Regions from separate parts of the Homo sapiens genome. Here region 1 is linked to region 2. Evidence: fine-mapped expression QTL. A gene starts in region 2. The other region holds a variant in brackets. All regions are shown on one strand. Distances are from middle to middle. Region 1 overlaps NANS (N-acetylneuraminate synthase). Region 2 holds the start of NANS (N-acetylneuraminate synthase).

The links. PIP is the estimated chance that this variant, and not a neighbour inherited with it, causes the effect.
Region 1: its variant is fine-mapped to the expression of NANS in whole blood (TOPMed, PIP 0.94).

What each region holds. Positions count from the first base shown.
Region 1 is chr9:98,074,790-98,082,789 of GRCh38, forward strand. It overlaps NANS (N-acetylneuraminate synthase), which reads left to right. Exons shown (of 6, transcript NM_018946.4): 3 at 2,129-2,228; 4 at 3,404-3,558; 5 at 6,027-6,293. It also overlaps a transcript of TRIM14 not described here. Among named protein-coding and RNA genes, the nearest start is that of NANS, 22 kb to the left of the region's middle. RefSeq lists an enhancer at 1-650. The variant C/T (reference allele first, on the strand shown) is at 3,266.
Region 2 is chr9:98,046,111-98,061,605 of GRCh38, forward strand. It overlaps NANS (N-acetylneuraminate synthase), which reads left to right and starts at 10,622. Exons shown (of 6, transcript NM_018946.4): 1 at 10,622-10,830; 2 at 14,672-14,887. The coding sequence starts at 10,699. LOC124902227 (a long non-coding RNA gene) reads left to right here. Exons shown (of 2, transcript XR_007061687.1): 2 at 350-2,093. It also overlaps a transcript of TRIM14 not described here. RefSeq lists enhancers at 10,131-10,180, 11,221-11,340 and silencers at 10,371-10,720, 10,801-10,970.

The sequences.
Region 1 (8,000 bases), 25 kb after region 2:
GCCACACCACACTCCCACAAGATGAACATTATACAAAAGAAAACTCAGTGGAAGGTTCCTTCTTTAAACAGAAAGCACTCTCTTCATCTGCCAAATGAAGTGAGAAGGGTAGGAAAATTAGATTTTATTGAAAAAATATATTTAAAACTGATGTTTTTTCAGTTCTGTCTTAGGGCTAGTTAGCAGTGTTATGAGACACAAACAGGAAGGAGTGAGGTGGAAAGGTATGGAAGGTACTGGGCATGGCAGCTGAAGCTTGCAACCCCAGCACTGTGGGAGGCCAGGGTGGGACAACTGCTTGAGGTCAGGAGTTTGAGAACAGCCCGGGCAACATAGCAAGACCCCATCTCCACAGCAAATTAAAAAAAAAAAAAAATTAGCCACATGTGGTGGCACGTGCTTGTGGTCCCAGCTACTTGGGAGACTGAGGCAGGAGGATTGCTTGACCCCAGGAGTTTGAGACCAGTCTGGGCAACATAGCAAGACCCCGTCTCTACCACAAAAGAAAAGAAAAAGATGGAAGGGGAAAAGAGAAGAGTTAAAAATAAAGCAGAGGAAGAGCAGTGAGAAAGGTGAAGGAAGGGAGGAAAGGAAGGAAACGGTGGGAGGGAGGGAGGAAGGAAAGGGAGAGAGGGAGGGAAGGAAAGGGAGGAAGGAAAGGGAGGAAAGGGAGGGAGGGAGGAAGGAAGGGAGGGAGGGAAGGAGACAGGAAGGGAGGTAGGTTGGTTGGTCCGTCGGTCCGTCGGTCCTAGACCAATCAGAGTTTGCATTTCATTTCAGCAACTTCCCTGGGAGAGGGAAAGATTTGTGCCCATGTGATCAAGTGTGAGCAACTCACTAAGCCCTAACTTATTTCTGAGTCACCATTCAGAGACATTGATTTTTTCGACTTTTGATTTCCAACTTCAAAACAAAACAAAGGGACTCAAGAAAACTTTTGAAGGTGATGTGTATGTTTATTACTCTTGTGCTGATGGTAGCAGTAGTGTATACTTAAGTCCCAACTCACCAAATTACATTATGTGCAGTTTTTAGTATATCAATTACACCTTACTGAAGCTGGAAAGAAATGATAATAAAAAGTTTTTGAGTTCTTATAATTTGACAGCAAACTGAGATTTTACTCTTATAACTTGTGATCCACTGATTCCTTCAGCAAGCATTTGCTGACATTTACCAATTTCCTGAGTCTTGTTGATGAATACTAGAGAAGGATGTTGAAGAGCACTAAATAGGTAACCTCAAGCAGTGACGTTATATCTGAAAAAAGTGACTGAGGTTCACTTTTAAGTAGGCAGCGTGCTTTGAGGCCTGAAAGGGCTCGGGTTGAATGGGCCCTGCCAGCCATGGATCCTTATGTAGAGGCTGGGCAAAAAAATGCTCCATTTTCCCCCTTTCGCCAAGAATTGAAATAGCCCCTTTTCCTGCTCGTTTGGCCGAGTAGAAGGGAAAGCCTTTGAGGCTATTCATGTTTTCACTGCCTGGTTTTCTGGGTCAGGATTAGGTCATGACCGTTTCATGTTTGTTCATTTGGCCTTGGGCCCCTGGGGCAGGTAGGGTCTGGCCAGGGGAAAGGTTCTTTTCCAGATTCTTTTTTTTTTTTGAGATGGAGTCTCGCTCTGTGGCCCAGGCTGGAGTGCAGTGGCATGATCTCAGCTCACTGCAACCTCCGCCTCCCAGGTTCAAGTGATTCTCCTGCCTCAGCCTTCTGAGTAGCTGGGATCACAGGTGCCCGCCACCACACCCGGCTAATTTTTATATTTTTAGTAGAGACGGGGTTTCACCATGTTGGTCAGGCTAGTCTCAAACTCCTGACCTCAGGTGATCTGCCCGCCTCGGCCTCCCAAAGTGCAGGCATGAGCCACCACGCCCAGCCCTTTTCCAGATTCCTGTAGCCAGCAAAGACCAGCACCAAACGTTTGTTGGGCTAATGGATGGGTGGATGCAAATGAATGTTTGCATTTGAATGAAATGACTGAGAACAAATCTTTGCCTGCTTTCAAGTTGCTGAGCGTCCCTCTACTGCCTAAGATGAGGGGTTTTTCTACTTGTATGTTATTCCTTGCCTGTCATAACAACAGTGTTTTTGGACAATGGTGAAAAGGAGCTCCCTCTTTGATTTTTGTAGATGGCAGTTGAATTCCTGCATGAACTGAATGTTCCATTTTTCAAAGTTGGATCTGGAGACACTAATAATTTTCCTTATCTGGAAAAGACAGCCAAAAAAGGTAAGTGTCTAATTTTTGACTTAAAATCGAAGGGAGTCCAAACCTTCATATTTTTACTCCCCTCATGGTGGCCCACTTTCAGCAGATTTCATGAAGACAAATTTTAGCCTCTTTTCATTTTTTTAAATAGAGATAGGGTCTCGCTGTGTTGGCCAGGTTGGTCTTGAACTCCTGGCCTAAAGCAATCCTCCCATCTCGACCTCCCAAAGTGCTAGGATTACAGGCATGAGCCACTGTGCCCTGCCAGAAACCTCTTTTCAATCAGCCTGTACTTCCATTTTTTGTAAGCTAATTTGAAAGAAAATGAATTAAGAATATGACAGTTTTTATAAGACATTTAGAAATTCTTTTTAAGAATTTTTTTTTTTTTTTAATAGAGACAAGGTCTGTCTATGTTGCCCAGGTTGGTCTTGAACTCCTGGATTCAAGTGATCCTCCTACTTCAGCCTCCCAAAGTGTTGGGATTACAGGTGTGAGCCACTGCACCTGTCCTAGAAAATTTTTTAACTAAAATTTATAAGAAATTAAGGATATGACAGTATATATAAAACCTAGCTGGGTATGGTGGTGCATTACTGTGGCCCCAGCTACTCGGGAGGCTGAGGTAGGAGGATTGCTTGAGTTTGAGACCGCAGTGGGACATGATCGTGTAAAGTGGTTTTACAACATGAACAATTTCATTTGATCCTCATAACACTCCTAGGACTGAAACAGGTCATGATTATGATGCTTGATACTTATTTCACAGGGGAGGCCTCTGAGACTCAGAGACGGACAGTACTCTGCCCAGGCACAGCTAGAAGTGGCAGCTCCACACCTCACATTCATTCACACTCTTGAATCAGCACTCATTCTACTGTACTGCCATGGTATACAACCTATTAATCAGATAAGATACTCATTTTCCTCTTGGCAGTGTGAAATTCCTCTGCCTCTTTAATTCAGTTCCTTTTGCTCAAGAACACTGTCGGGGGGCAGAGGGGAGCCCACCTTTCCTGTGGCCGAGGGCAGGAACCCAACAAGCTCCTCTCTGTTCC[C/T]CCACAGGGGCTGGCACAGTGTTTTAAGAGATGTCTGTGGAGTTCAGTTGAATGATGAGACCAGCAGTTGGGATGTGTTGGGGAGAGTCAGAACCTCTAAAGAGAAAGTGCTGATGGTGTTGGTGCTGGATTACTCAGGTCGCCCAATGGTGATCTCCAGTGGGATGCAGTCAATGGACACCATGAAGCAAGTTTATCAGATCGTGAAGCCCCTCAACCCCAACTTCTGCTTCTTGCAGTGTACCAGCGCATACCCGCTCCAGCCTGAGGACGTCAACCTGCGGGTCATCTCGGTGAGCAGGAGGGAGGGGGTTCCCTTCTTGGGCCATTTACTATGGGGAAGGCGTAGTCTTTTTTATAACCAAAATTCTAACAAACATGGCATACTTTATAATTTGAACATCCTTTGACAGTCTTGCTGTTACCAAATCAAATTCGAGCTAAGCAGTTGAGGAAGCACATACATTCTAAAGAGGGTGACTGTAAATGAAATTTTCTTGGCCAGGCGCGGTGGGTCATGCCTGTAATCCCAGCACTTTGGGAGGTCGAGGTGGGCAGATCACCTGAGGTCAGGAGTTCGAGACTAGCCTGGCCAACATGGTGAAACCCCTTCTTATTAAAAATATAAAAATTAGTCAGGCATGGTGATGCGTGCCTGTGGTCCCAGCTACTCAGGAGGCTGAGGCAGGAGAATCGCTTGAATTCAGGAGGCAGAGGTTGCAGTGAGCCGAGATTGCACCACTGCACTCAAGCCTGGGTGACAGAGTGAGACTCTCAGGGGGAAAAAAAAAAAAAAAAAAGTCTGTCTGTCAACAGACATTTGGGATGATTTTACCTTTTGGCTATTGTGAATGATGCTGCTATGAACACTAGCGTACAGATAAATATTCATCTTTTTTCATACTGAGTTATAGGAGGCCTTCTTGAAACTTCCTGGCTTTTTCTGCTTTATTTGCTGACTCTCTTATTTTCTAATGCTGAGCATCCCTGAGGCTCATACTAGTTATAGTGACAGCCTTGATGGAAATTACTCTCTCCCACGATTTTGCCTACTCAGTCATTTCACAGATGGTGAAATCCAGTCCCAAGTCGGGAAGCCTGAGATCCCACAGCAGCTTGGTGGCAAAGCTGGAACTAGAACCTGGGCATGTCCCCCTAGGCCTTTGTCTCTTACTGTCTCACGCCATCTCTCTCAGTTCTTCCTGTAGCACTGGAAATTTAACTTTATTCGAAAATATGTATGTAATTATCATTAAAACTATTATAGTAACATTAATGGAATTCTATCTATCTATCCACACATACTAGAATCCTGATATTGCAGTTGTTTTCCTTTTATATTTTCCTTTCAGTATAGTATTTGACATTGTTTTCCCCATAATATAAGCTTTCTTACATGTTGTTATACAGCCATTAACTTAAAAAGTTAGCCTTTTTGAAAACTGACATTACTCTCTTTTTACCTAAACTTTCTGTCCCTCCCAATCCTGTTTTTGCTTCACTTACAGCTTATCTAAATCACGTTATTTTTAAAATTTAAAAATGATTTCTGTGAAATATGTAATGTCGAAAGTAAACATCCCCTGCACTCCCATCCCACAGAGATTCCGATAATTAACAGTTTAGTAGACGTGACCCCAGCTATTTTCCTTTTCAGTGTATCTCCGTCCCCACTCAAGGTGCTGTCATGTCCTCTCTCTTGACACTACACATTGCAGGAGTTATTCTGCCAGCCTATCCCATCTTGGGCCTGCACATAGTACAGTGGTTTGAATTTTCAAACTTGTAGCAACCCGCACTCCATCACACACCCTTAAGCCTGGTTTTCAAGGCCTTTGCCACCTAACCCTCCTAATCTTTTGTTAAATCCCACCTGAGGCCAGACACCGTGGCTCATGCCAGTAGTCCCAGCACTTTGGGAGGCTGAGGCAGGTGGACCGCTTGAGGCCAGGAGCTTGAGACCAGCCTGGCCAATGTGGCGAAACCCTGTCTCTACTAAAAATACAAAAATTAGCTGGGCGTGGTGGCGGGCACCCATAGTCCCAGCTGCTCAGGAGGCTGAGGCAGGAGAATCGCTTGAACCCAGGAGGCAGAGGTTGCAGTGAGCTGAGATCACGCCATTGCACTCCAGCCTTGGTGACAGAGCAAGACTCTGTTTCAAAAAGAAATAATAAATAACAATAAAATAATAATACACGCTACCTGAGTCTTTCTACTGTACTCAGCTTTCTGGTCACCCTCACCAACAAGACTCACCCATCTTAGAGTGTCTTTTGTTGCATTCAGTGAATTATAGATAACGGATTAATTATTTATCATTTTCACCAAAGGATTGTTTTGAGATTGGGCTGTGTATATTATTGATGATATTTGTGCATATAGCACACTTGCTTTCAGCAGCTCAGGCTAATTAAATGTGACAGATGGTTTTTGAATGAGGTTAGACATTCATTTATAGTTCTGTTGTTACTCTTGGTGTATTGTGCAATGTGAAACATTCTTAAAATGCATTCTTTAGAATAACAGTAACCATTTTTAGAGCATTTACAATGTGCTGAGTGCTTCTCATGCATTTACAGCAACACTCAGCAGGTATTATTATCATCCCTAGGAAAGAGAGGCTCAGAGAGCCTCAGTATCTTGCCCCTGGCTGCACAGCTAGTGAGTGGCTAAACCGGGGCTCAACCAGATACGCTTCACCTGGAGAATATGCATAAAGCAGCATGATATTTAATGTTATTTTTCTTTTTCCATTTTAAAGGAATATCAGAAGCTCTTTCCTGACATTCCCATAGGGTATTCTGGGCATGAAACAGGCATAGCGATATCTGTGGCCGCAGTGGCTCTGGGGGCCAAGGTGTTGGAACGTCACATAACTTTGGACAAGACCTGGAAGGGGAGTGACCACTCGGCCTCGCTGGAGCCTGGAGAACTGGCCGAGCTGGTGCGGTCAGTGCGTCTTGTGGAGCGTGCCCTGGGCTCCCCAACCAAGCAGCTGCTGCCCTGTGAGATGGCCTGCAATGAGAAGGTGTGTCCTGCCGGACTCTACTCGGTTCTGCTGCCGTGTGTGGAAAAAGGATAGGCTGGCCTGAGAGGGATGGTCAGGACCAGCCCTCCCTGAGCCAGGCTGATGAAATGATCAGTGAATGTGCTCCCACCCGTGTCAGCTTCTTCAGGCTTCTCTTCAGTAATGCATGTCACTCTGGCCTGTAGCAGCAGCAGGAGACACATGTTATCTAACTTTAGCAGTTTCTCTGGCCACCTAGGGTCACATTAGAGTCTTCCACTAATTCTCTGAAGCCCATGGCCCCAGTACTCCTAGACTCCAGAATATGTAACAGGAGTGAGGCCCTGGAATAAGTCAAGTCTGGGCTCCCTTGGAGCAGGTAAGCCCTGAGAAACATTTAGGCACGGTGTTCCCTGAGGTACCAGAAGAGCCTGTGGCATTTCCTAAGCCAGGGTGGCACTGGTGGGAAGGGCAGTGAGTCGTTGCAGAGGTGGGTGGGTGATGATGCAGCTATTCCTTGTGCAACAGTGACCTTCAGACAGAGGAACTGGTGGGCCTAGAAGCACTGCCTGGCATGCTGACTATCAGGGCTTCCTGGAAGCCGTGGCCTGGACCTTCTTGCCTTCTGAGTCATAGAGCCAGGCAGGCATCCTGGGGCTGCCAGGCACACACACACCTAACCTGTAGGCTGTCGGGGTCAAGGCAAAGACCAAACACCAGGCATGCCTGGGACTGTTGTCACCTTTTATTCTAGTGGGGCCTACCTGCTTCCCCAAATCAAAGATGCATCTATACCAGGAAATTAAAATAAAGTAAAAAGAAATAGTTTCTTTATAGAGGAAACAGGAGAGAATTAGACCAGAAACCAGAGTAAGATTTATAACAGCTGAGCACTTAATTTGGCTCTCTGAGCAGACAGTAAAACATAACAGGATGCATGATTATCACTTGACATTTTTTCCTGGCACCACATTCCAAGCAGAATTGATTCCTTGTACTCTTACGTGGAGGATATAGAGTAATAAAACACGTAATTTATTTGAAAGCATTTATAGAGAAGACAAACACTGGTCATGAGCTTCAGGTACCCTTCATTCCCTCATCTGCCTGTATTATCTGCCCCTTCCTCGGGGGCTCCTTTTCTTGCCATCTGCATAACAGCCACATTCACCATCTTATGAGTCCTTCATATTTCTATTTTACCAAACAAAGTGGCGGTAAGGTGTGTGCCCTGGAGAACGGTGTGTCAGGAGTTAAGAATCTCATCCCTATGTTATGTTTCATCTTGGCTGTCTGCAACCCTGGCCAAGTCACCCACCCTGTATGGGCCTCAGTTTCCCCATGTTTACAATGAGATACTGAGCTGAATGGTAACCAAAAGAATCAGAGTTTGCATGTATTGAGAGCATTCTATGTTCCACGTACATTCTGTAATATCACCAATCCTTACAGTCATCTGACAGGATAAGTTTCCATTTGACAGAGAAACTAAAACGTGGCCTATACCCCACAGACTGGGATTTGAACCTGGCTCCGCCTACATAGCCTCAGCCCTTTCCTTTGCACTTTGTTGTAAAGGCTCCTCCTCTGAGTCTCTGAATTCAATCTATACTGGTTGAATTCCTGCCATGTATGAGATATTCTGAGCAGTGTAGGGGGCAACAGAGTGCCTGCTCCCAAGGTACTGCCTGGGGAAGACTGATCAGGGACCTTGAGTGTAAAGTAAAG
Region 2 (15,495 bases):
ACCCCTTTGTTTCATTTTTCTTCAGTGCTTACACAGGAAAAAAAATCATTGGCTAAGTTAATCAAGGGAACCCGAGAGCAAACCCAATATCCTAGGTAAAAATTTGATACTTAATTTCTGAAGAACTGAGTTCCTTCTGACTTATACATGCGTAAGTATTAGGGCCCTGGAAGCAGCGAAGTCTTACAGAAATGGTGAAATCGTACTAAAGGTAACTTACAGTGGAACATTCCAAATGAATAAAACTGCACTGAAATGCATTTGAAAATGAGGGCTCCCTAATTAGTCTCATCTAGGGATGTCTGTTGATATGCAGAAGAGTTTTTTTGTTTTTTGTTTTTTTTTTCAGAGATGGAGTTTCGTTCTTGTTGCCCAGGCTGTAGTGCAATGGCGTGATCTCGGCTCACAGCAACCTCCGCCTCCCGGGTTCAAACAATTCTCCTACCTCAGCCTCCTGAGTAGCTGGGATTACAGGCATGCGCCACCACACTCGGCTAATTTTGCATTCTTATTAGAGAGGGGGTTTCACCATATTGGCCAGGCTGATCTTGAACTCCTGACCTTGTGATCCACCCGCCTTGGCCTCTCAAAGTGCTGGGATTACAGGCGTGAGCCACTGCGCCCAGCTGATATGCAGAAGAGTTTAAAAAGATTTCCATATTTTTATTTAAAGCCTTTACAAAAGGCAAATAAAAAGCTTAGGCAACTAATTGATTAAAAAAAATTAAATCTGCCTTGTACTCTTTGCTGACAGCTATGAGTGACAGGATTAGGCACGTACAGGACCTTAGAACCTGGGGAAACTTTTCCCCCCAAAGGTGAAATTTAAGGGCTGATGGGACAGCTGGAAAAGGTCCCTTTGTGACCAAAAAGTGACCACTTGAACTTTTGATTCAGTATCACTGCAATGGGTGGGTGATATGGCTTTGTTGTGTCCCCAACTAAATCTCATCTTGAATTGTAGCTCCCATAATTCCCATGTGTTGTGGGAGGGACCTAGTGGGAGAGAATTAAATCATGGTGGCGGTTTCCCCCATACTGTTCTCATGGTAGTGAGTAAGTCTCACGAGATTTGATGGTTTTTATAAGGGGAAATCCCTTTTGCTTGGTTTTCATTCTCTCGTCTGCTGCCATGTAAGACGTGCCTTTTGCCTTTCACCATAACTGTGAGGCCTCCCCCACCACGTGGAACTGTGAGACCATCAAACCTCTTTTTCTTTATAAATTACCCAGTCCTGGGTGTGTCTTTATCAGCAGTGTGAAAATGGACAAATACAGTAAATTAGTACCAGTAGAGTGGACCACTGCTGTAAAGATACCCAAAAAGATATTCAAGCTCTAACAGCCTGGGACTCCTTGGGTAAAACAGGAGGCACCACAGAGCCTGTTTTGGGAAAAACCTCTGTTTTTCTCATGAAACCCCAGGAATTGGAAGCAGTTAGAGCCCTCTCAAAATCTAAGGCTCTGTTCTTTTCTGCATTGCATTATCTGATATTTTTGAGTTTTGGGGGTACCAGAAGTTACTTCACATTATGAGAGAAATTTAGTGTGTAATAGCTAGGTAGGAAATACAGTTTTGGGGATAGCTAATGGCAATTATGGGGGAATTCTCAGCTCTTTGCATGTTCGGATCAGAGAAGCATGCTCTTGGCCACCTAGAAAGCATGGAAATGAGCCGGGCGTGGTTCCTCATACCTGTAATCCCAGCACTTTGAGGGGGTCAAGGCAGGTGGATCACAAGGTCAGGAGTTTGAGACCAGCCTGGCCAATGTGGTGAAACTTCATCTCTACTAGAAATACAAAAATTAGCTGGGCGTGGTGGCACATGCCTGTAGTGCCAGCTACTCAGGAGGCTGAGGCAGAAGAATCGCTTGAACCCAGAAGGTGGAGGTTGCAGTGAGCTGAGATCATGCCACTGCACTCCAGCCTGGGTGATGGTGTGAGACTCCTTCTCAAAAAAAAAAAAAAAAAAAGTATGGAAATGTCACCCACACCCCCTGACTGAGAGACAAGACTCCCATGGATGATGGGCTAGTCACAGAATGGGCTGGTTAGCTTTGGATTGCTTTGCAATTAAATGCATGGTAAAATCATTGCACTGTCTTGTTCATAGCATTTCTCCTTTTGGGATCTGAGATCTGGTCTAAAAATGAAACCCTTAATATTGGGGGAATCCATTTTACCTTCCAGGTGTGCCTGCTTATTAGGTCCTAGAAACTGCTTTCCTCACCCTGTTCTACAAAGGGCTCCACTCTAAAGCCAGTAATCCAATTAAGAAATATAAAAACTGGCAAATGAAAAATCCTACAGCTACTGGATCTTCTTCCATCTGTCTGTCTGTGTAGTTATATATGTGTTGTGCGTGTGATGTTTATATAAAAGAGCTCTGATTAATTGGCTTCAAGAAAAATAAGTACTTAAATATTTTGAAAGAAAAATAAAAACTGTAATGCCTTTTAGTTCACATGACTTTAGTAACCTTTGGGAAATAAAAACAATTTTGAAGATTATTGGTAAAATAAAGATATTTAGTCTAATTTAGGCAGGTCAGATATTAGGTTTGCTAAATGCTTTAAGGTTATAAACTGCTTCTTTGGCTTTTGAAAATCGTTCAACTTGAGTAAAGGAATAGGCTGGGCATGGTAGCTCATGCCTATAATCTCAGCAATGTGGGAGGCCGAGGCAGGTGTATCACAAGGTCAGGAGATCGAGACCAGTCTGGCCACATGGTGAAACCCAGTCTCTACCAAAAATACAAAAATTAGCCAGGCGTGGTGGCGGGCACCTGTAATTCCAGCTACCTGGGAGGCGAGACAGGAGAATTGCTTGAACCTGGGAGGCGGAGGTTGCAGAGAGCCGAGATCATGCCACTGCATCCCAGCCTGGGTGACAGAGCAAGACTCTGTCTCAGAAAAAAAAAAAGAGTAAGGAATAAAGAGTGGCTATTCTGGCCGGGAGCGGTGGCTCATGCCTGTAATCCTAGCACTTTGGGAGGCCAAGGTGGGCAGGTCACCTGAGGTCAGGAGTTTGAGACCAGCCTGACCAACATGGAGAAACTCCATCTCTAATAAAAATACAAAAATTAGCCAGGCGTGGTAGCGCATGCCTGTAATCCCAGCTACTCAGGAGGCTGAGGCAGGAGAATCACTTGAACCTGGGAAGTGGAGGTTGCAGTGAGCCAAGATTGCACCACTACACTCCAGCCTGGGCAACAGAGTGAGACTCTGCATAAAAAAAAAAAAAAAAAAAAAAAAAAGAATGACTATTCCATATGCAGAGCACCCCCAAGGGCTGCTGGCTGTCCACTTTAATGATCATTTCCTAATTATATGCTAAAGAAGGGGTGGGTTATTCATGAGTTTTCCAGGAAAGGGGTGGGCACTTTCTGGAACTGAGAGTTCTTCCCCCTTTTAGACCATATGGGGTAACTTTCTATGTTGCTATGACATTTATAAAGTGTCATGGCACTGATGGGAGTGTCTTTTAGCATGCTAATACATTATAATTAGTGTATAATGAACAGTGAGGACAACCAGAGGTCACTCTCATTGCCATCTTGGTTTTGGTGGGTTTTGGCTGACTTCTTTACCACTACTTTTTATCAGCAAGGCCTTTGTGACATGTACCCTGTGTCAACCTCCTGTCTCTTCTTGTAACTAGGAATGCTTTAACCTCATGGGAATGCAGCTCAGAAGGTTTCAGCCTTATTTTATCTAGCCCCCATTCAAGATGGAGTCACTCTAGTTCAAATGCCTCTGCCACAGTGATAAAAGAAAAACTTCAGCTGAATTAAGTTTAAAGATGTTTGATTGATCAATGAGCAAGTCACGAATTGAGCAGCTTTTTGAGCCAGGGTAGGCATAGAGACTCCAGTGCAGCTTTGTGGTAGAAGAAGATTTATGGACAGGAAAAGGAAAGTGAAGTACAGAAAACACAAATGAGGTTTAGAAGCAACTGGATTGCTTACATTTCAGCGTTTGCCTTATTTTAACACAGTTGGAACAATTGGCTACATTTGATTGGCCCAAACTCAGTGATTGGCACAGATATGGGCTACAGTCTGTTTACATCTCCACTTGTTGTAGTTCATGATGTACAGAAAATCTTTAGGCTGAACTTAAAATATATAAGGAGGCAGCTTTAGGCTAAACTTGATTTAACAATTCCCCCCTTTTGATCATTTTCTCAATTTTGAGAGATTGACCAAAACTTTAGTCATTCATGTCACCATCCCAGCATAAATATACTTATTTGGTCTTGAAACCCACTGGGAAACAGTAGAACAGTGAGTTTTGCAAGGTGGGAACAAGGACTGAGTAGAGGGTACCTCCTTATGCTGGAACCTCCTGTTTACAGAAGAAAAACAAAACCTGGTTTGTTCTAGGACCTATGTGTTCCTTAAAGTCTTAGTATTGCTATGTCACATTTAGCACGAGTGACTCCATTTTGGTTTGGTTTGGGGCCTAGTGCTCATTCCAAAACAATGGCCTCCCCTAATTTTGTTTTTAAATATTCCCCCTTTTTGGTCACATTCTCCCTTAGGTGAGAGTTCTTACTTAGGTGAGACGGTGACCAAAACTTAGGGCCTTAACGCCACTCTCAGTTACCATCATTTTGGGTTTCTGGTCTCAGCGTGTCATTCATAGGTTATGGTGTCCTCATGGTTGCACATTTCTTTTTTTGAAACAGAGTCTACTCTGTCACCCAGGCTGGAGTGCAGTGGTATGATCTTGGCTCACTGTAACCTCCACCTCCTGGGTTTAAGCGATTCTCATGCCTCAGCCTCCTGAGTAGCTGGGTTTACAGGCAGGCACCGCCACACCCAGCTAATTTTTGTATTTTTAGTAGAGACAGGGTTTCACCATGTTGGCCAGGACGATCTCGAACTCCTGGCCTCAAGTGATCCACCTGCCTTGGCCTCCCAAAGTGCTGGGATTACAGGAGTGAACCACCACACCCGGCATGGTTGCACATTTCTTTCAGCTCTTGTCATTCCAACTGAAGAGAGACCGTTTGATATTCTAAAGATGGCTGTGTGCAAACACTTAAAACCTTTGAGAGAATACAGCACACCAGGGAGACTACTATTATGACTATCGCGAGGATAACACCAAGTGTTTGGAGTATTCTCCTTATCCAGGGTCCCCATAAACCAAACCACCTGAAATTAAATAGATCAAAGAATGAGCTAGATGAAGAGTCTACTCGCTTAACTAAGCAGTCTTTCCACTAATCCCCTACAACTGAATCTCTATAATGCCCGACGTGATATATTTATCCATAGGCCACAAGTGCCAGCAGCTGCACAGATACTTCTGTGCCAGTAAGTAATCTAGAGCAATTCCATTATTTAGCATAACTTTCATAAGATAAAGTCTGTTGTGGAACCATAGACTTTACAGTAGAACCTGCTATAGAACCTATCATGGGGGATACATTTCTAATCATTGCCCCTTTTACTCCAAACCATAGAAAAAGGACTTAACAAATGATGCCCTTCTAGAGGAGTGAAGGCCTCCTGGCAATGATTTCTTTAACCCATGATGTGGGTTAAGAGGAGTGAGCCAATGTTCTAACAAGCAGCCACAGCTGGAAGGCAAAAACAGATCCCCAAAATGAAGGGTCCCATTTTTATACTGGATCCTGGATCCCCAAAAAGAAGGGAAATGCTACCAGAGAAGATAGTGCAATGCTTCTACTGTGGATTTCATTGCAAGGCAACCCAAAGCCAATCAGCTCATTTTGTAATCAGCCCATCTCTTATGGGAATCTCATATTTAGCAGGGGTGAGGGGGTGGGGTGGAGATGTTTCCATGCCTCTAGGTGGTCAAGAGCGTGCTTCTTTGATCCAAGCGTGCAAAGAGCCAAGTATCCCTCCTAACTGCCATTAGCCATCCCTTAAAATATATTCGCTACCTGGTTATTACACACCAAGGCTAAAAGCTCTCTCACAATGCAAAGTAATTTTGGACAACCTGCCCCCAAAGTCACAAGTGTCAGGTAATGTAATGTAAAACAGAACAGAGCCTTAGACTTTGAGAGGACTCTATCCTCCTTCAATTTCTGGGGTTACATGAGGGAAACAGAGGTTTTTCCTAGAATGGGGTCTGTGACACCTCCTCTGTTTTTCCCCAGGAGTCCCAGGCTGTTAGTAATTATCTTAGGTTCTCTCATGTGGACCTCAAGAATGGCAAGAAGACAAAATGGAGAAAAACAATTCAGTTGACTGAAAAGAAAAAAAAAAACTTTAATTTTCCTTCAGAAAAATAAGATCCAAGAAGAGAAAAGAAAACAAACATAAAGGCTTTTTAAATATATGTACAGTTTGCATATCCACTTTTTATTAAGCTGATTTTAACCATATAGCTCTTTTTTCTTAAAAAAAAAACTGTTAAATTTTTGTTTTGTTTGTTTGAGACAAAGTTTTGCTCTTGTTGCCCAGGCTGGAGTGCAATGGCATGATCTCGGCTCACTACAACCTCCACCTCCTGGGTTCAAGTGATTCTCCTGCCTCAGCTTCCCGAGTAGCTGGGATTACAGGCGTGTGCCACCACGCCTGCCTAATTTTATATTTTATTAGAGATGAGGTTTCTCCATGTTAGTCAAGCTGGTCTCAAACTCCTGATCTCAGCTGATCCACTCTCCTTGGCCTCCCAATGTGCTGGGAATACACGCGTGAGCCACCGTGCTCAGCCCAAAATCTTTTATTACCAGACTAGCCAGGACAGCCAATATTTCTGGCTTTTGAATTCTACCACAGGTAACCTCCCATGTGAAATTAATACATTTTAACTAAGGTCATAACTTAACCATGGATGCATAAAGTGTCTTAAAGAGATGGTAAGCAGTTTTTGTTTTCGTTTTCTAATAATTAGAGTCTCCCCAAAGGTAGTTCAGCAAAAGTAAGAATAAAGACAGAAAACCAGAATCGGTCCATGGGGAAAAAGAATCAATAAATGGCAAAAAGTTACACAAATAACAAACCAGAAAGGGCTCACTCCCTAAGCCCCCTGAGCCAAGAATTGAACCTGGGCCACCACTGTCAAATGCCAAAGCCTTAGTACTGAGCTACCGCATTAAGCACTTTCTATTGCTCTTCCCAGAAGGAAGATTTTGAGCTTGCGAAGGCTTTTAACTGCTCAAGATAATTTTTAGGGCTACCTATGACATGAACCCCAAAATTCCTGTCCTCTGGATGGCAGAATCCAAGATAAAGTATCCTCACATGGTCACAAGGTTAAGTTCAAGGACATAAAACAACATGAGAGAGAAACTTCATCTGGTATTGGTTTCAGGGACTCACAGAAAAGTTTGTAAGTGACCAGCCTGCTGAACTGGCTTTGGACAGTTGGCTTATATGGCTCCTAAGTCCATGTTCTATCCTGTGATGCCCCCTCCATTATAGAACAACACAGAAAAACAAATTCATAGCACTAAGTACACCAGATTTTCTATAGCCTAAACTAGTCTCATAAGTCTTTTTTTCTATTAATCAGACCTTTGTAGAGGAGACAGTGATGTTTAACATACACACACACACACATACAGGCCAGAAAGTTGGCTAATAAGTTGTTACCCTTTTTGCCGGCATACCAGGTTTCCAGGTTCCCTTTCTCTGCAGCTTCCAGAAGAACGGAGCGGCCTTTGATAACTGTTCACTATGCTATAGCTGTGGGGGCCAAGCCCACTACAAAATAAATAAATAAATAAATAAATAAATAAATATCATCCTTTTCTGTTTTATGGAACCATAGGCAAAGCTTCTCAACTTTGTAAGATGCTGCCCGATGGGCTGCATGGAGAACCGAATTAACATTTTCCGTCTCAGCTGAAGCAAAATACACATAACAAAACAGATAGTAGTCACCTCATTGGGCACCCAGTATCACCCTAGCAAGGCTCAAACTGTCTTCCTTTGGTCCCTATCATCTTTGATCCACTCAAGGTGGGGAGGGATGGCATCAATGAGTAGTCTCTGGGCAAGACAAAGAGCAGAGAGTTACCCCTTAACAGTCAGGCCTGTTAAGCTTTTTTTTCAGAGCTCACTGAATGTGACCATACTTACAGAGGGTTTTCTGAGTTAGGCCTGCTGGACTTGCATCAGAAATTCCCTCAGAGATCCCCTCCACATATACAAACACACACACAAAGACAAGACGGACAGAAGGCCTTCCAAACCAAGATCCCTAACCAAGAATTCCAAGAGTATTCCTTCCAAACTATCCTATTCTCCATCTGAGAAGTCTCCCCGAAATCTTACTGATTGAGGAGAAGTCTCCAGAACCAAGACTCTTCCTACTAATTAGGGAGAGTAAACCGAGACCCCTGAAGAAGCTGAACCAATTGGGAGAAGGAAAGGGGTGTTGGCAGCACCTAGACTACTCACCAAATCAGACACCCCATAATGGGGCTGCAGCTGCAGACAATCCATGATGGGGCTACAAACAGACACTGTGATAAGGTTACAGTTACAGGCACCCCATGGTGGAGCTACAGAGGGACACCTTGCCATGGAGCTCTAGTTATGAGATATCTCCCCAGGACAATTTCTCTATTGCAAAGTGTACTCCATACATATTGGGCTAGTAGTGCCCTGCCGATAGAGATGACGCCAGAGTCAGCCCCCAGTCCAAAACTAGGTGGCCGCTTGGGCTGGCCTCTGGATCCATCGCCAGAGGGGGTCTACAGAACCGGGGCAGGTAGCACAAGAGCAATCCCGAATGAGCCCCCAAATTTTTAACTGCTCAACTGGTTCACCATGCCCACTACCTACACAGCTGATTTATCAAAATAGGGGAATTGCAATAGAGAGAGTAATTCATGCAGAGCCAGCTGTGCAGTCTGGCTGAGTTTTATTATTACTCACATCAATTTCCCCTAGCATTCAGGGATCAGAGGTTTTTGGGGTTTTTGTTTGTTTGTTTTTGAAATGGAGTTTCGCTCTTGTTGCCCAGGCTGGAGTGCAATGGCACAATCTCAGCTCACTGCAACCTCCGCCTCCCAGGTTTAAGCGATTCTCCTACCTCAGCCTCCCAAGTAGTTGGGATTACAGGCATGCACCACCATACCTGGCTCATTTTGTATTTTTAGTAGAGACAGGGTTTCACCATGTTGGCAAGGCTGGTCTCGAACTCCTGACCTCAGGTGATCCACCCGCCTCAGCCTCCCAAAGTGCTAGGATTACAGGTGTGAGCCACTATGCCCCACCTTGGAGATCAGAGTTTTTAAGGATAATGTGGTGGGTTAAGAGAGGCCAGTATGCCAGGAGTGCTGATTGGTTGTGTTGGAGATAAAATCATAGAAAGTCAAGGCTGTCTTCTTGTGCCAAGTCAGTTCCTGGTTGGGGGACACAAGATCAGATGAACCAGTTTATCAATCTGGTGGTGCCAGCTGATCCATCAAGTGCAGGGTCTGCAAAATATCTCAAGCACTGGTCTTAGGTTTTACAATAGTGATGTTATCCCCAGGAGCAATTTGGGGAGGGTCAGAATCTTGTAGCCTCCAGGTGCATGACTCCTACGTGTCTAATCTTGTGGCTAATTTGTTAGTCCTACAAAGGCAGTCTAGTTCCCAGGAAAGAAGGAGGTTTATTTTGGGAAATAACTTATCTTATTTTTTAAATTAATTAATTAATTTATTTATTTTTGAGACAGAGTCTTGCAGTGTCACCAGGCTGGAGTGCAGTGGTGTGATCTGGGCTCACTGCAACCTCCACCTCCCGGGTTCAAGCGATTCTCCTGCCTCAGCCTCTCGAGTAGCTGGGATTACAGGCACGCACCACCACGCCCGGCTAATTTTTTTGTATTTTTAGTAGAGACGGGGTTTCTCCATATTGGTCAGGCTGGTCTCGAACTCCTGACCTCAGGTGATCTGCCTGCCTTGGCCTCCCAAAGTGCTGGGATTACAGGTGTGAGCCACCGCGCCCGCCCAGGTGATTGTATTTTAAGAGCCTGGGGCTGGGAGGTCCGGGTACTAGTCCCATCTCTGCTTTGGCTTTCTGGATGGCTTTGGACAAGCCAGTGCAACTTCTCGAACCTGTTGCCTCTCATATAATAGGAACCTCCGCCACTTCTTGAAAACTTACTACAAGCCAAGTATTGTGATCAGGGGTTTCTATACGTCATCTCACAGTTCTATTTTATTTTTTTGCTTCAGAGAGAAACAAAAATAACGCTCCGGAAGACTGAGTAACGTATATATGAGCAGGAGCTGGTGACTGGCATAGGCTGGACTCGATCCAGCTCTGTGATTCTAACTCTAGCAACCCTGTTTTTTCCATTACACCATAGGGCGCGCTCTCCCCATGCTCCTGAGAGCAGGACATAGACTATGCCCTGCGCAGGCAGCCGTCCGCCTCCTGCAGGGAATGCTTGCTCCTGGGTGCACGCACGGATACCGCGATGGTCCGAGACCACGCTCTGGGACAGCAAGCCTCAAGCCTCGCACAGGAGAGGGCCGCGGAGCTTCCTCGACCCGCCCCGCCGCCCTTCCCGCGGGAGGCCCCGCCCCCGCCCCCCGCCCCGATTGGCTGTCGGGAGAGAGGCGGGGCCTAGGGGATTGGCTGCCCGGCGACCGCGGGCTGACGTGGCGGGGCTGGCGTGTGGGTCTCGCAGCGTTGCTCACAGAACAGAGTAGAGGCGGCGGCGGCGGCGGCCGGACCCAGACTGGTAGTGAGGCTTTGGACCCCGAGCCGCTGCAATGCCGCTGGAGCTGGAGCTGTGTCCCGGGCGCTGGGTGGGCGGGCAACACCCGTGCTTCATCATTGCCGAGATCGGCCAGAACCACCAGGGCGACCTGGACGTAGCCAAGCGCATGATCCGCATGGCCAAGGTGAGGCGGCAGCTCCCGGGACCCGGGATTCGGGCGCCGGGAGGGGCGGGGCGGGGCCGCGGGGAGCCAGGGCCACACGGCCTCCGCGGCTGGGTACCCTGGTCCGGCCTCTTCCCGCCCGCCAGTTCCGTTTTCGGAATCCTTCGGATCCCTCTTCCTCACCGTGTCCGCCACCCTCGTGACCTTTCTGCATTACAGCAGCTGCCTCCTAACCCGACCTGTTTCCTCCCCGTTCTGGTGCCAGAATAATCTTTCTAAAAGTCAGACTTGATCAGACCATCCCCCCTGCCTGGCACCTTCTGTGGCTCCCTCCTGCCCGCGGGTAGAGTCGAAACCCTTTAACATAGCCTTCAAGATTTTAATGACTGGGCCCCTTCCAGCCCGTCATAATTCTTCTCTGACATTCTTCAGCGACACAGAGTTACTTTCAGGAATGACAGTTCCTGGAAGTTGCTGTGGTCTCTCTCACCCGCCATTCCCTGTATATGAAATATGAAGTGGTTAAAAGCCGGGCCTTTGAGTTCAAATCTCAGTTCCACCACTACTAGCTGTGTGAACATGGGCTGCTTACTTAGCCTCCGTGAACCCTTTTCCCCATTTGAAAACGGGGCTTGAAAACAACAGTTCTTTCCACATGGAGTTGTTATGGGGATCAAATGAGATTCTCAGATAGAGCTCTGAGCCCAGCACTTGGCACACATGAGTCGGTAAATGCGTGCTCCCTCTTCTGTTGGGACTGCCATATTCTTCATTACGACCCCAGCCCCCAGCATAAGGCCTGGCCTGCACTATGATTCTTTGGTTTAGAGATAGCTCACCCCATCTTTCCTTTCCCTTCATCAATGCTACTCAACTGATTTTGTATCATTTGTGATAGGTTTTTTAAATGTTTATTTATTTATTTATCTATGTTAGAGACAGGGTCTTGCTCTGTCACCCAGGCTGGAGGTTTTCTCTTACTGTTTTTTTTTTTTTTTCCTGGTTTTTTTTTTTTTTTTTTTTGAGACAGGGTCTCTGTATCACCCAGGCTGGAGTGCAGTGGCATGATCCCGGCTCACTGCAACCTCTGCCTCCCAGGCTTAAGTGATTCTCCCACCTCAGCCTCCCGAGTAGCTGGGACCCACAGGCGTGAACCACCATGCTGGGCTAATTTTTTTGTAGAGATGGGGTTTGGCCATGTTACCCAGGCTGGTCTCGAACTCCTGAGCTCAAGCAATCTGCCCACCTTGGCCTCCGAAAGTGCTGGGATTACAGGTGTGAGCCACCACCCTCGGCCCTTGCTGTTCCTTCGGGACTGGTTTTATGGAAACCTAATCACTGAATCATAAAAATACTTTACAAAAATAACATTGCTAACATTTTTTGAGTGCTTACTCTACCAGGTACTAAGCTAAATGCTGTACATGCACCATCTCATTTAATTTTTACAACAACCCAATGCCATGATGCTGCCGATTTCATTTTAAAGGCTAAGAGAAAATAAGTGACTTAGGCAAGGTCACATAGCTAGTATAATAAATACAGTAAGGGGTTTTTTCAGTTTTTGCTCCTAAGCCACAGGACTCCAGCCTTTCTTCTGCAACATTGTTTTCTAGAGGGAAATTCCCACTCTTAATTTGAAGGAGCAGTCTGTTTTTCCTCTTGGAATGCCGAAGTTGTAGAAATATCTAGAGATACTGAAGCCATAGAAACAAAGCTGTACTGACCAGGTGCAGTGGCTGATTCCTGTAATCCCATCACTTTGGGAGGCTGAGGAAGGCAGATTGCTTGAGCTCAGGAATTCGAGACCAGCCTGGGCCACATAGCGAGACCCTGTCTCTAATTCCATTGAGCTGGAATCTAGGTGGCTGCAGCCTTTAGGAAAGGGATCTGGCCAGCTCTGCTAGAGACACTGTGCAACTTTAGTCAGGTCAGTCTGGGCCTTGGGATCTTCATCTAGACAATGAGAGCTCTGTTGCCCAAGGTCACTTTCAGTTCTAATGTTCTTTGAACTTTCCAGCATCAAGTCCTGACTCTACCATCTTATGATTTGTCTAAGAGCAGGAGTAGTGATCTCAGCACTGACATTTCTGGACCCAAGAAGTTTTTATTTTTTTTTTTCAAGACGGAGTCTCGCTGTGTCACCCAGGCTGGAGTGCAGTGGCGTGATCTCGGCTTACTGCAAGCTCCGCCTCCTGGGTTCACACCGTTCTCCTGTCTCAGCCTCCCGAGTAGCTGGGATTACAGGTGCCCACCACCACACCTAGCTAATTTTTTGTATTTTTAGTAGAGACGGGGTTTCACCATGTTAGCCAGGATGGTCTCGATCTCCTGACCTCGTGATCTGCCCACCTCGGCCTCCCAGAGTGCTGGGATTACAGGTGTGAGCCACTGCGCCCGGCAGCCAAGAAGTTTTTAATAGCATGAATACCTCTGTGTCTACAGAAATGGCCGTGAGATGGGACTTTAGTGGGTTTTAATTACTCTTTTTCTTGAGTAGATTGTTTTTGTTTGAGTCAAGGTCTCACTCTGTTGCTCAGGCTGGAGTGCAGTGGCACCATCATAGCTCATTGCCACCTCAACCTCTGGGGATCAAGCGATCCTCCCCCCTCAGCCTCCTGAGTAGCTGGGACTACAAGCGTATGCCACCATGCCTGGCTAATTTTTATATTTTTTGTAGAGACAGGGTCTTACTATGTTGCCGAGGCTGGTCTTGAACTCCTTGGTTCAAGCAATCCTCCCACCTTGGCCTCTCAAAGTGTTTGGATTATAGGCATGGGCCACTGTGCCTGACCTCTTGAGTGTTTTTTGTTTTTTTTTTTTTATAGTCAAACAATCCGGCTTTTATATTATTGCCTCTGCTCAGTAGAAGTCATCTAGGGGCTGGGGCATTTTTGTTTTGTTTGTCTGCTTTTTAACATGTAACCTGTTCAAAGAAAATGTCATGGAGAAAAGCGCCAGTGCAAAGCAGCTAAAAGCAGAGTTGCTATTGTTGAAATCAGAGAAAGAGGCATAGGGCACTGTCCCTGGATGTTCCTGTCCCTGAGAGGGCCTCATTAGGACAGTTTACACATCCTGGAGGTAGCCCAAACTGCTTTTATATCGATGGAGAAACTGAGTCCAGAGCTGGGAAGTGACTTATCTAAGAGTTAGGGTCAAAGTTAAACCAGAATTTTTCTTTACTAAATTCTGGTCCAGTGCTGAGTTGACTATTCTTTGCTCAGTTATATAACTTAAAATCTTCCTTAACTCTTTGATCCAATGTTTTTAATATTTACAATGCAAAACAAAGGAAAAAAGTCCCATTTTTTTTTCTTTTGGCATGTTAAGAGAAAAAAATAGGGGGAGGTCTCCCATCTCCAAACAACCTTTTCTTCCTTTCAGACTTTCTTGCCTTTTCTGTTCCTCTTCCTTGGAGGTCCTTAAGGTCTCTGTCAGTCTATGTTGTTTTTAAAGATGGTGATGTCGGCTGGGCGCAGTGACTCATGCCTGTAATCCCAGCACTTTGGGAGGCCAAGGCGTTTGGATCACCTGAGGTCAGGAGTTCAAGACCAGCCTGGCCAATGTGGCGAAACCTTGTCTTTACTAAAAATAACAAAAATTAGCCGGGTGTCGTGGTGGGTGCCTGTAATCCCAGCTACTTGGGAGGCTGAGGCAGGAGAATGGCTTGAACCCGGGAGGCATTGGTTGTAGTGAGCCGAGATCACACCTTCTGCACTCCAGCCTGGGTGAAAGAGCGAAACTCTGTCTCTAAATAAATAAATAAATAAAGATGGTGATGTCATAGTGGTTGCTCCAGAATTTTTTCCTTTTTTTGAGAATCTACGACAGTCACTGAAAGATGTCCTAATGTGTGTTGTAGGAGTGTGGGGCTGATTGTGCTAAGTTCCAGAAGAGTGAGCTAGAATTCAAGTTTAATCGGAAAGCCTTGGAGAGGCCATACACCTCGAAGCATTCCTGGGGGAAGACGTACGGGGAGCACAAACGACATCTGGAGTTCAGCCATGACCAGTACAGGGAGCTGCAGAGGTACGCCGAGGAGGTTGGGATCTTCTTCACTGCCTCTGGCATGGATGAGGTGAGTCCTCTGCTGCTCTGTCATTTGTCACTTTAGCAGACCAAGGGTCAGCAGGCAGCCTGGTGACTTCCGGCTTAGGGCCACCTCCAGCCCTTGCTCATCCTTTCTGTTCCCAGCTACTGGAGAGGCTAGCAGGCGCCAAAGCCCAGTGAGAATCTGTGGGAAGGATGCCATTGTTTTAAAAACACATTGTCTCTGGCCGGGCTTGATGGCTCACACCTGTAATCCCGGCACTTTGGGAGACTGAGGGGGATGGATCACCTGAGGTCAGGAGTTCGAGACCAGCCTGGCCAACATGGTGAAACCCCATCTCTACTAAAAATACAAAAATTAGCTGGGCATGGTGGTGCGTGCCTGTAATCCCAGTTACTTGGGAGGCTGAGGCAGGAGAATCACTTGAACCTGGGAGGTGGAGGTTGCAGTGAGCCGAGATCACACCACTGTGCTCCAGCCTGGGCAACAGAACAAGAGTCCATCTCAAATTAAAAAAAAAAAAAAAAAAGGCCAGGCGCGGTGTCTCACACCTGTAATCCCAGCACTTTGGGAGGCTGAGACAGGCAGGTCACGAGGTCAAGAGATCAAGATCATCCTGGCCAACATGGTGAAAC